2 separate regions of the Homo sapiens genome follow, and region 1 is reported to be linked to region 2. The links are microRNA targets in miRTarBase. Many come from high-throughput screens and were not tested one by one. Region 2 holds a microRNA gene; the other region holds the end of a gene's coding sequence.
Evidence for each region. The annotated mature microRNA hsa-miR-8089 reads CCUGGGGACAGGGGAUUGGGGCAG and lies in region 2 at 2,653-2,676, opposite strand. An mRNA with a match to its seed (bases 2 to 7 or 8) in the 3' UTR can be bound and repressed. Matches are read on the target gene's strand: a 7mer-m8 pairs with bases 2 to 8, a 7mer-A1 pairs with bases 2 to 7 and ends in A, and an 8mer does both.

Region 1 (5,304 bases), not on the chromosome of region 2:
GCCTGGGTGACAAAGTGAGACTCCATCTCAAAAAAAAAGAGTAAATCGTTCGGAAGGTAAAGATATTAGATGTCAAAATATTTCAAATTTTGTCACTAGCTTATTATTTAATTTCATTTAAATTACATAGTACACATTTGATTAAGGAGATCCAAATTAAAATTCAAATCTACATCTGTAGATCCAAAACAAGGTTTATAAACAAATAGACCTATTGGGAGGGTGGCGCTATGTTGCACTGCATAAAATAACTTAAATAGTCCAGAATACTTAGAAAACGATCATCCTAACCCTTACCAGAAAATCTTCAAATTAAGTGACTCCCCTACCAAAAATCTCAATAATGAAATGCTTAAGAGTCTTACATTAGGTAAAGTATTCCCGAAGGTAATTTATTCATCTATTTTGCCAAATATAGCTTATTTTACTATGTCTGTAAAACTGTGGTAAATCTTACCTGTGCTTAAGAAAATATAAAATTGCTCATTAGAGAGCCAAGTTGAATGAATAAGATGTATTCTTTTAAGTGCTTGTTAGTAGAAGTCATTTACATTGTTTTGCTTCCTAATTTAAATTTATTGATGGCCCTAGAGACACAGAGATGTTTGCTGTAACACACATTGCTTCAACAATGCTCACTCTCACCTCCTCTACCGGTCAGGATTAATGTCTAAAACTCTTCCCACAGACAATTAACAATTTTCATTGAACTAAAAAGAAAATTTTATAATGTACATGATGGAAAAATTTATTTTCCCAGTATCTTCTTCTAACACTAATCACAACATTCTTATTTAAAAAAATTAGCATGGTGAACATTCTTTATCTGTTAGTTTTTAGTAGTAGTCCTGAAGAATTAATACAAATTATTCACTGAAAAGTTCATTTAAATTGGAGGGTCTACCTCTTCAAAACATATCCCAAGTCCATCCATGGCTTTCCTTCTCCATTACTGCCCACTAAACTTGACCCAAGGTTGCTACAGCCATCTCCCAGCTAGAATTGCTGACTCCCCTTTACAAGGGAGTTTTTTGAACTGCAGACATAATGATCCTTTAAAAACATGAAAATGACCATTTTTCTGCATAAAACCTTCAGAAGACTTTCTACAGCACTCAGCATGAAACCCAAATCCTCCACCAGAGCCATCCAGGCCCTATGTAATCTGACCATGCCTCCCAACTTTTCAAGGCAGATGGCCTCTCCACTCCTTATTCCAAGCTCATTACCAGCTCAAGGTCTTTGCGTTTGTCATTCCTTTTGTCTGGACAATTCTCCAACTAGAATATAGTCTGCCTACTGCTTCTCATCACTCAGGTGTGAGCTGTCTCCTCCATAGAGAGCTTTTTCCTGGCCATCCTATCACCTTATTTAAGAGTCTTCCTTGCCCTGCAAACATTTTATTTGTATTCTATTATGCATCTCTTCGTACTAGGATGTAAGCTGCATGACAGCAGGGGACTAGTCTGTTTGCTTTCATTTCTATATTCCCAGCACAGCCTCTAGCACACAGCACCCAATGTTGCTGATGAATGTTAATTACACTAGCATAGTGGTTAGGAGCCTGGGCTTTGGAGTTACATCAATTGGGGTTCAAATACCAGGCTGGCAATTTACTCTCTCTGTAACTTATTTGGACAAATTCTTTTTAAAGACTTGATTTCTTTATAAAATAGAAATACTTGTGGGGCAAAATAAATCCAAATTTAAATGAGGTAGGTGGGATTCATTTCCTTAGCCAGAGCTAAGTCTCTAATTCAAGACTTTCTCTTAATTCCCAACCTCAAACTTAAGATGTTATGAAGGGGAATAAACAGCGAACTTTCAGTTATCCTTATGTCATAATTTTCTTTCAGAGACCTAAAAGCACAGTATTTTAGGAGCACATACACAGACTTCTGCAGTCAGACCACCTGAGTTCAAGTCCTGTTCCTGCACTTACTGCTGGGGATGATGCCAACTCCCGGGCCTCAGCCTCCTCAGGGAAGAACAGAACTTCCATCAGGGAGCAATGCCAGGAGAACCCTTGGCACCTCAGTGCTTCCTCCATGCTAGGCACACGATCATACCCATTAGTATCTGACTGAATTGAAAATACTTTACTCACGCCTGTAATCCCAGCATTTTGGGAGGCAGAGGCAGAGGCAGGTGGATCACAAGCATCAGGAGATCAAGACCATCCTGGCTAACACGATGAAACCCCGTCTCTACTAAAAATACAAAAAAAATTAGCTGGGCGTGGTGGCAGGCGCCTGTAGTCCCAGCTACTAAGGAAGCTGAGGCAGGAGAATGGCGTGAAAGTGGGAGGCGGGGCTTGCAGTGAGCTGAGATTGTGCCACTACACTCCAGCCTGGGAGACAGCGAGACTCCGTCTCAACAACAACAACAAAAAAAAAAAGAAAGAAAGAAAGAAAGAAAATAAAATACTTAGGTAGATTCAAGATCTACTACCAAGAATGAATTTCACTGGAAGAAAAAAAATGCATTTTTCAATATGAAAATGTGAATGACATTAAAGCCACGTCAACAGATGAGTACCGGATGATGCACATAACAAGCCAGTGAGCCCCAACAACTCAGGGGTCCTCTGGCCACGAGCAACTGATGGCTTTGCTTTGAAGATCATCATTGCTCTTAGAATTTTATCCTAACAGTGTCACATTATATTCTCTATTTACAGAGGCTCATAGGAAAATTTCCAATACTACAAAGAACTTTAAAAAAAACACCCTTTAATGACTCATTTTATTAAGCAAATTCTCCCTGCTAACATCTTTGTTACTTAAATACTTAAATTTCCTATACTTCATGCAGACCTAGTTTCACTTTCCCGTGTTCAAATAATTCCCTTTCAAAAAATATTCTCTTCAAGGCACTTTCCTCCAGTGTGCACGGCCCATTCACTTTCAGCAGACAACGACGATGATAAATAAAAGCAATCACAGGATCTGTAAGGTGGAGGGTTCAGGTTGTTTCTTTCCCAGAATCATTAAGGGGCATATTTTCATCTTGGGGCATAAACGAACTGAATCTCACAGTCTGGGAGGAATTTAGACCACCTGTCTGGCAGCACACTGGCTGGAGGTGGACTGTGTGCGGACGTCCTGGGGGAAGGGTGTGGAGGAAGGCAACACACACGAAACACTCTCGTCCACATCCCTTCCCCTGCTTTTTAACTGGATGGAAATATGGCTTTGTGTTGGTTCAGGTGACATAAAAAGGTGAAAACAGTAGATCTCAAATTATATTTTACTTTAAATACCAAAGGTCAAAAAGGGGTCCACAAATCAGTAGCTCCTGAGACCGTGCGTGCGCGCGTGCGTGCTTAAGTGGGTCTGTTTCAATTCCACATGGGTTTTTCCACACACTGGTTTCTGGCATCGAGCGCTGGTCTGCAGGACACCAGAGTGCCTTTGTGTCCCTTGCTGACACTACCGCATTGTGTTTTTCTACCCATTAACCAAGGATAAATGACCTAGATATTGTGCCTGTTAAAGCCTCATTTTTCTTTTGCCCTTTTGTTCTTCAGTGTACCACATTATCACACGCTGCACACATTTCTAAGTATTCTCGGTCTCAGATGCCCTTTTGAGGGAGTAATAGGAGCTTTTTGTATGCATTTCTGTTGAGATATCTGGAGTGGAATTATGTGAGAGTAATTCAAGGTTTTCCTTCCTGTCTAGTCTTCGAGACAGTTTAGTGTCTTACCAAAAGCTAATCTAGTATAAGAGGATATATCAAGAAACTGTACAAAAGCCAGAATGCTGTATTTGCATCTATTGCGAATACAAAAAAAATAGAGTGAACACCAGTTTCCCTATATACTACATTCTATAATTACATCTCTGCATATCATGGGTCACTTTTATTAAAAGCATCATTACTACAGTTGGCAGCAATTTACATTTTATCTTACATGATAGCAGTTTTCAAAGAAAAAAATAAAAGGACATCACAACAAAGAAAAACAATACATTTACAAAGTCATGTCTGTAAACTTCAAGGCTAGTTTAGAGCTGAGGTAATGCTGTTTTAGCTTTGTGGCTAAAGTAACAAAGTCCTTTAATTTAAAAAAGGTACCTGATTCTCTCTTCTCTCACTCTTTATTTATTCATCTATTTATTTTGTTTTTACCAGTGCATTACAAGACCACGAGACAATGGAACTGTAGTTCTGTCTGGCAAGAACCCTCCCAGTAGGTTAATTTTCCAAAGGGACCCTTCACATTCAACAGCTGCCTTATTATTGCTGCGCCTCGGGACAGAGGCGTTCACACTAGCGTGGAGATTGTCAGAGTGTATGGATGTGTGTGTATGCACGAGTGTGGGAACCCCCATACAGTCAAAAAGGGAAACAAATGAGCAAGTATGATATGTATGGTAAATTTCAGCTTGACCTTCACAGCAAAAAAATTAAAAATTAAAATTAAAAAATTAAATATATAACTTCATACTTCCTTTGAGCAGCACTTTCTTCCATTAGTGCCACTCAGTTACAAATTGCTCTTTATTATAATACCAATGGTACCAAGAGAAAAAAAAAAAGCAGAGCATTATGTAAGTTTCCTTAAAAAGACATGATCACCTCTCAAATTTCATCTCTCCTAGGGATAATAAATAATGCACTGCACAATACTTAATGACCAAGATACCTTTTGACACACCTGTATAACATGACTTGAACTTTTTTTTTTGCTACACTATGTTACAGAACAGCTTATAAAACTAGGTATGAACATTAACTGTGAGTGTAAACAGTAGGACTACCACTTGTCAAAAGTTTTAAACACTTGAACTGGAACTGGTACTGGTTATTCATCATTTTCATTGTTTTCTATTTCATCCCCCCCATCAAGTGAGTCTAGCTCTTCACCCTGTGCTATTTCGTCTTCTAAGAGGGAGGACTCTGCAGTCTTATCCAGGCTCTCCTCGGCATCGCTGCCTTCAAGGGTCTCTCCATCTTTAAAGGGTCCTCCCTCAGCCTTGTCAGCAGCCTTTTCTTCGCTGGAGCCCACGGCATTCTGAAGTCCTGCCAATGCTGGGAACCCAGGCAGCGTCAATCCCCCCAGTCCTGGAGGTAGAAACATGGATGGGTAGAAGAGGCCCGGGGCCATTGTGGACAGGAGGAAAGGGTTGAAGGCTAGCGGGTTTGAGGGCAATCCAGCCGGGGCAGTAGCAGCACCAACAGATCCATTCGCAGAGTCAGCAGCCGAAACAGCATCTGTGCTTTTCTCAGAGTCTTTGTTCTCGTCTTCATTCTCATTTCCTTTCTCCTCTCCTTTTGAAGTGCTGTCTTCCGGTTCTC
Region 2 (5,375 bases):
AAATCAAACCAGCGCAGGCAGTGAGCACTAGCTGGGGTCTGCCGGGGGGAAGGGCATTGCAGGGGGTGTCGGGGAGGCCCGTGGGAGAGGGCCAAGGCCCCACTGACACCTGCGGACTTGCAGCTTGGGGAGTGGAGGACAGGAGACAGGCAAAATTCACCAGTTACACAGCTTACAGAAGTAGCAAAGCAAAGACTATACTTCAGGGATAATTTCTGTACTTTGTTACTAGAGAAGTTTTCCACTCTGGGACCCCACAGTCTCCGCAGACATATGCAGAGCAAAAAATACTTCCTGTGTTTGGGAGAGCAAGAGACATGGCATTTATTAATAACATGGATTTTCCTGCCAGGTTTCATAACGTGGTCATTTAAGTGTGAAATGTAGTCTTAAAATTATGTTAGAGAATCCCCAAGGTTTTGCTCTGCCCCCATGGAAACACTGGGATCGCTCAGGACGCCAACAGCTGCATAGCAGGCGAGGGACTCCTGTGGGAGGACGTGGCCTGTGGACACTGCCAGGTTCGGAGATGTCCTTGGGAGATTTACTATTTGTCAGGAAGATAGTGTTAAGTTCAGGCAAATAATTATATGTGTGGACAGAATCTGAAATTCACCAATAGAGTAAGTAAGAGTGAGAGATTGTGAATGTGTAATACAAATGGAAAAGCAGGTTTTATTTTGTTAAGTTATTCACCAGGGAACCAACTGAAGTTCCTTCTAATCCTCTTTTTCTCCATTCTTGCTTTGCTGAAAGTTGGAGAAAAGGACATGTGTAGAGAAAATGGGATGCTTCAGGGTGGCTCAGAGGACACCAATCCATAGTGATTCGCCTGAGTTTGTCAGGTGGAAGCAGTGATTTTTAAGAGTCACTGATTAAAAACAAACAGTCCTAAGTGTATTAGGGAGATGCCATTTATTTGTGAATCAAAAACTTTTCTCAGTCTCTTAAATTATGGTTTTCCTGTAATAAGAATGATTTATATTTTTAGTGAAAAGTTGTTTTCCTTTCAAATACAGACTTTTTAAAAAGACTTAGTTTGAGTAAGTACCTTTTCATTTGATGCTTTTCTTGTGCCTAACCTTAGGAAATCCAGAATAGTATTTGACAGAAATTATGTTTTCAACTTGCCTTTGACATCTGTCCCACTGCATTTTGCTTTAAAATTCTTTATTTAACAATAAATTATCTAAAAAAATAACAGTAGCAAAGCAAAAAGTACTCATCTTTAAAGACAGACTCGACGGAGGGACCGGAAATCAGAAAAACATCAGGGTTGTTTAGGAATTGCAGGTGCAGGAGGAGAGAACAGGAGTGGGGCGGGCTGGGGGCAATGAGAGAGCAAGAAGAAAAGAAAAATAAAAAGAGAAGGAGAAGAAAGAAATGGGCTTTTGCTGGGTGCAGGCAGTGACATTTCTCAGGACCCCTTATTTCTCCCTGTGCCTTCCGGAGGGAGCAGCCCAAGGCTCCTGGGAGGACAAGCAGCACGTGCCCGCCGGCAGAGCTCAGCTCCAGCTGGAGGACCCCTTTGTGGTCCTTGCGCACACTGGGTTTTCCTTCTTCCCCAAATATCCGACGCGTCCAGTCCCTTACTCCTTCCCCAGGCAAAACCTCCTCACCAGGAACAACCTGAAATCAATTTACACTGTAATCAAAATAGCAGAGGGTGGAAAGTGTTTCCTTCGAGGAGGGGACTTACGCTTCAAGTAAGGATTGAGCACCCTGGATCCTTAACTGAAGAGTGAGGTCAGAAAGGGCGGACGCACAGCAGCAAACGGGGAGGAGGGTGCTGTCCAGGAGCCGCTGACTTTTCCCTTCAGGAAGCTGCCAGACCATCTCTCTCTGCTAAAGGCTTTCAAGATGATACCCTTGAGTGTTGGGAGCAAAGGGACCAGGTACCTGTTCCTCCTGGCTCAGAAGATGCTCTTGACAAAGTCTTAGGGAGACCTCAGCTTTAAGTTGTTTTATCTGGCAGCGGGATTTTAAATTTTGTATTCATTAGTTGGCTGGTTGGCTGGTTTTGTGGCTGGCACCGTGTGAGCCGGTCGCTTCTTCAGTGCCTCTGTGTGATGGCAGGTTAGGGTGAGTGTTTGGTCTGTGGCCAGCTGGTTCCTGAGACGGTCATGGTTTTGGGTAACAGGAGTGACGGAAGGGTGTACCCAGACACACGACGTAGCTGGTGAGGAATCTGAATTCGAGAAGTGCAGAGCGAGGCTCTGGAACCAGACAGTGGGTGGAACCCCACCCCACCACTCACCCACTGTGTGCAGGAGCAAGTCACTCAGCTCCTGGGCCTCCGTTTCCTTATCTATAATTTGGACCTATTAGTAATAATAATAATAAAAATAATAATACTGAGGTATAGATAAGTGTTTGATAGATAGGAAGTACCCAATGCATGTTAGTTTTATTACTGTCAGCACGTGTGTGTGTGTGTATGTGTCTGTGTGTGTGCATCTGTGTGTGTGTCTATGTGTGTGTCTGTGTGTGTGTGCATGGGTGTGTCTGTGTGTGTGTGCATGTGTGTGTGTCTGTGTGTGTGTGTGTGTGTCTACAATCCTCCTCCCCTGAAGATTCCATGATGGGAATCACACGGGTGTATCACAACAGAGAACTGAGGTCCCTCTAGCACTTCCACGGTTCTGGAACATCCTGCCCCAATCCCCTGTCCCCAGGAGGTGGCAGCCTGCCCCCAGTCCAGGGAAATTGGAGTGAGTGCTCCTTCTGTGAGAAGGCCAGCTGTGGGACCTGTCTCGCGCCCCATTACCACCTTATGAGCAGACCTGTGTCACAACCTAACACAACCTCGACTAATTCCCCAGAACCCAACCCATCTGAATGGATGCATAAACACACCCTGAGCCCCTCTTGGTTTTGGAAGTTACTAGCTGAACACTGACGTGCCCCTCCTGGTTTTGCTGTCATGGAGCTCTAACCTGTGTCTAGAATCCAGAAGAAAAGACTGAAGTATAAAGGAAAAGAGAAGGGAACAGAAGAGAGGGTGAGAAGGTGCACAACCAGTGTAGACCCCTTTGCTGGAACCCTTCCTTGCCAGCTTCCCCACCTGTCGCAGAGAGGCTTCCACCAGTAGCCACAGAGGGTGAGAGTCTGGACTGTCCAGCCAGGGCCTGGACCCTGCCCGAGGCCTCTGCCCATGCTGGTTATTGTGTGAATCGTGTTCCAATAACTGAGAGGTGTCAACACGGCCCCGCTTCGGGGGGACCCCACCTCCTGTCCTTGAACCTTCTTGAAACACACCTGGAGCTGTCCCAACCTGTCCTCTGTTTGTCCCCTCAATTTTAGCTCTAGGAGACAGGGCCATCAGCCCATGCGCCTCACAGGCCACCCCTCTTCCCTTGTATTCCTGCCTGTCTGGGTGCCTCCTAGCCTAAGGGTCCCTGGGGAGCCTCTACCACCTCATTAACTCACCCTGCACACCTCCTCTGATCCTTCTGCCTCTGCATGGCCCAGCAGCTTTGAAAGTCCTTCCTTCACACCTGCTGATGGTGTTGCTGACAGTGTGGCCAGTGCCCTGTGGCCACAGGACACCGGAAACACCTGCCATGCCAAGGTCTCGGAAGAAAAGCCAAGCCGTGGGGGCCGACGGGGAGACAGAGAGGGTTGGAGAGAGGAGCCCACCGTGGCCTTCCAACAAGGGCACTGTGATGAAGTGAAAGGCAAGGGGTGCAGTCCCAGGACGAAGACAGTGCGTGGGCGTTGGGAAGGCAGGGGGAAGGGAGGTGCTGACTTTGATTTCAAGAGCTCCTAGCAACCCATGGGAGTGGGCATTGGTTTCTTCCATGGTTCAGGCAGAGATTTCGGTCCAGCCAATGACAGAATCTGCCTAAAATCTTGCAGAACTAAATGCAAGAGAAATATGGAGAGTTTTGTGTATCTCCAGAGACTCATTGGCAGCAGCACACTCTCTGGCCGTGAGTCATTAGTGGGTCCCAAGGGAGCAGAGCATCAGGAGTGAGGGGGTAGCCCTTGTCTGGGCCAGGTCTGGGCCTCCTGGGTCATAGATGAGGAAGGGGTGGCTAGATGGGATGACTCCATCACTGTAGCCCCGAAGATGCTATCGACACAGAGACAGTTACCAGCTGGCCTCCTGAAGGCACAACTTGAGGTCCCAGGCCTGGAGGAGAGTGTCCTAGGATGTCGTTGGGGCTGGCAGGCAGCCACCTGCATGCACTCCACTTCTGAGAGAGCAGAACTCTGTGTTTGTTCCTCTGTTTTGCGGACTCGATGTTCCAGACCAAAGGGAAGTGGGACGAAGGTTGGGTTGGTGGTGGTGAGGCAGGAAGAATGAAAATGCATCTGAGATCTTCAGAGATTGCCCTTTGTTTGAGGAAAGTCGCTAAGCCCAGAAAAGGGGGGGCGCTGAGCCCCCACACATTGTGTGGCTCTATTCCTGGCTCTAAACAATAAGCAGCACAGAAGCTGCTTCCTCTGGGATCCTTCAGCCTCGTCCCCTTGCAGCTCTGTGAACCTGGGCAAGGCCACGGATGCCATTAACAGTGTCCCCTGGGAAAATTAGAAGCAGCTCTCCCCTCTGGCCATGGAAGAAGCCAAGCGCTGAGGCTTGTAAGGAATTTGAGAACTAGACAAAAATAACTGAGGCCACAACAGACTTCAGGTCTGATGGAGTGAGTTCCAGCTCCCCCTACCTTTGCACGTCGCTCCAGCACCCCTTTGTCCCTCTCCAGGTGGCCCCCACTGCTGACGAGAGATGGTGGACCTCTCAGTCTCCCCAGACTCCTTGAAGCCAGTATCGCTGACCAGCAGTCTTGTCTTCCTCATGCACCTCCTCCTCCTTCAGCCTGGGGAGCCGAGCTCAGGTATTGTGTCTGCAGCCTAGCTGGCCAGGATGTGAACGCCACCCCTCCTGCCAGGTGCTCCCCAGGGCTACGATCTTAGCACAGTACCAGGGCGTGCCAGACGCTAAAATACAAAAAAGACTTCCATCCTGGTTGTTAAAGAGCCACTACCCCGAGCATTACCCAGCCTGTAGTGATGTTCCTCCACCATCTCCCCAGCCCCCGACACCTCCTCCACCATCTCTCCAGCCCTCAACACCTCCTCCACCATCTCCCCAGCCTGTAGTGTTCCTCCACCATCTCCCCAGCCCCCGACACCTCCTCCACCATCTCCCCAGCCCCCAACACCTCCTCCACCATCTCCCCAGCCTCCAACACCTCCTCCACCATCTCCCCAGCCTCCAACACCTCCTCCACCATCTCCCCAGCCCCCAACACCTCCTCCACCATCTCCCCAGCCTGTAGTGTTCCTCCACCATCTCCCCAGCCCCCAACACCTCCTCCACCATCTCCCCAGCCCCCAACACCTCCTCCACCATCTCCCCAGCCCCCAACACC

Region 1: the mRNA of CHD7 is a reported target of hsa-miR-8089. The part of its 3' UTR that is shown has no 7-base or 8-base seed match.

Annotation. Positions count from the first base shown.
Region 1 is chr8:60,865,440-60,870,743 of GRCh38, reverse strand. It overlaps CHD7 (chromodomain helicase DNA binding protein 7), which reads right to left. Exons shown (of 38, transcript NM_017780.4): 38 at 2,716-5,304. The coding sequence ends at 4,811. Among named protein-coding and RNA genes, the nearest start is that of CHD7, 190 kb to the right of the region's middle.
Region 2 is chr5:181,040,761-181,046,135 of GRCh38, forward strand. It overlaps MIR8089 (microRNA 8089), which reads right to left and starts at 2,724; the gene lies at 2,643-2,724. BTNL9 (butyrophilin like 9) reads left to right here. Exons shown (of 11, transcript NM_152547.5): 2 at 4,707-4,838. The coding sequence starts at 4,730. RefSeq lists a silencer at 5,122-5,375.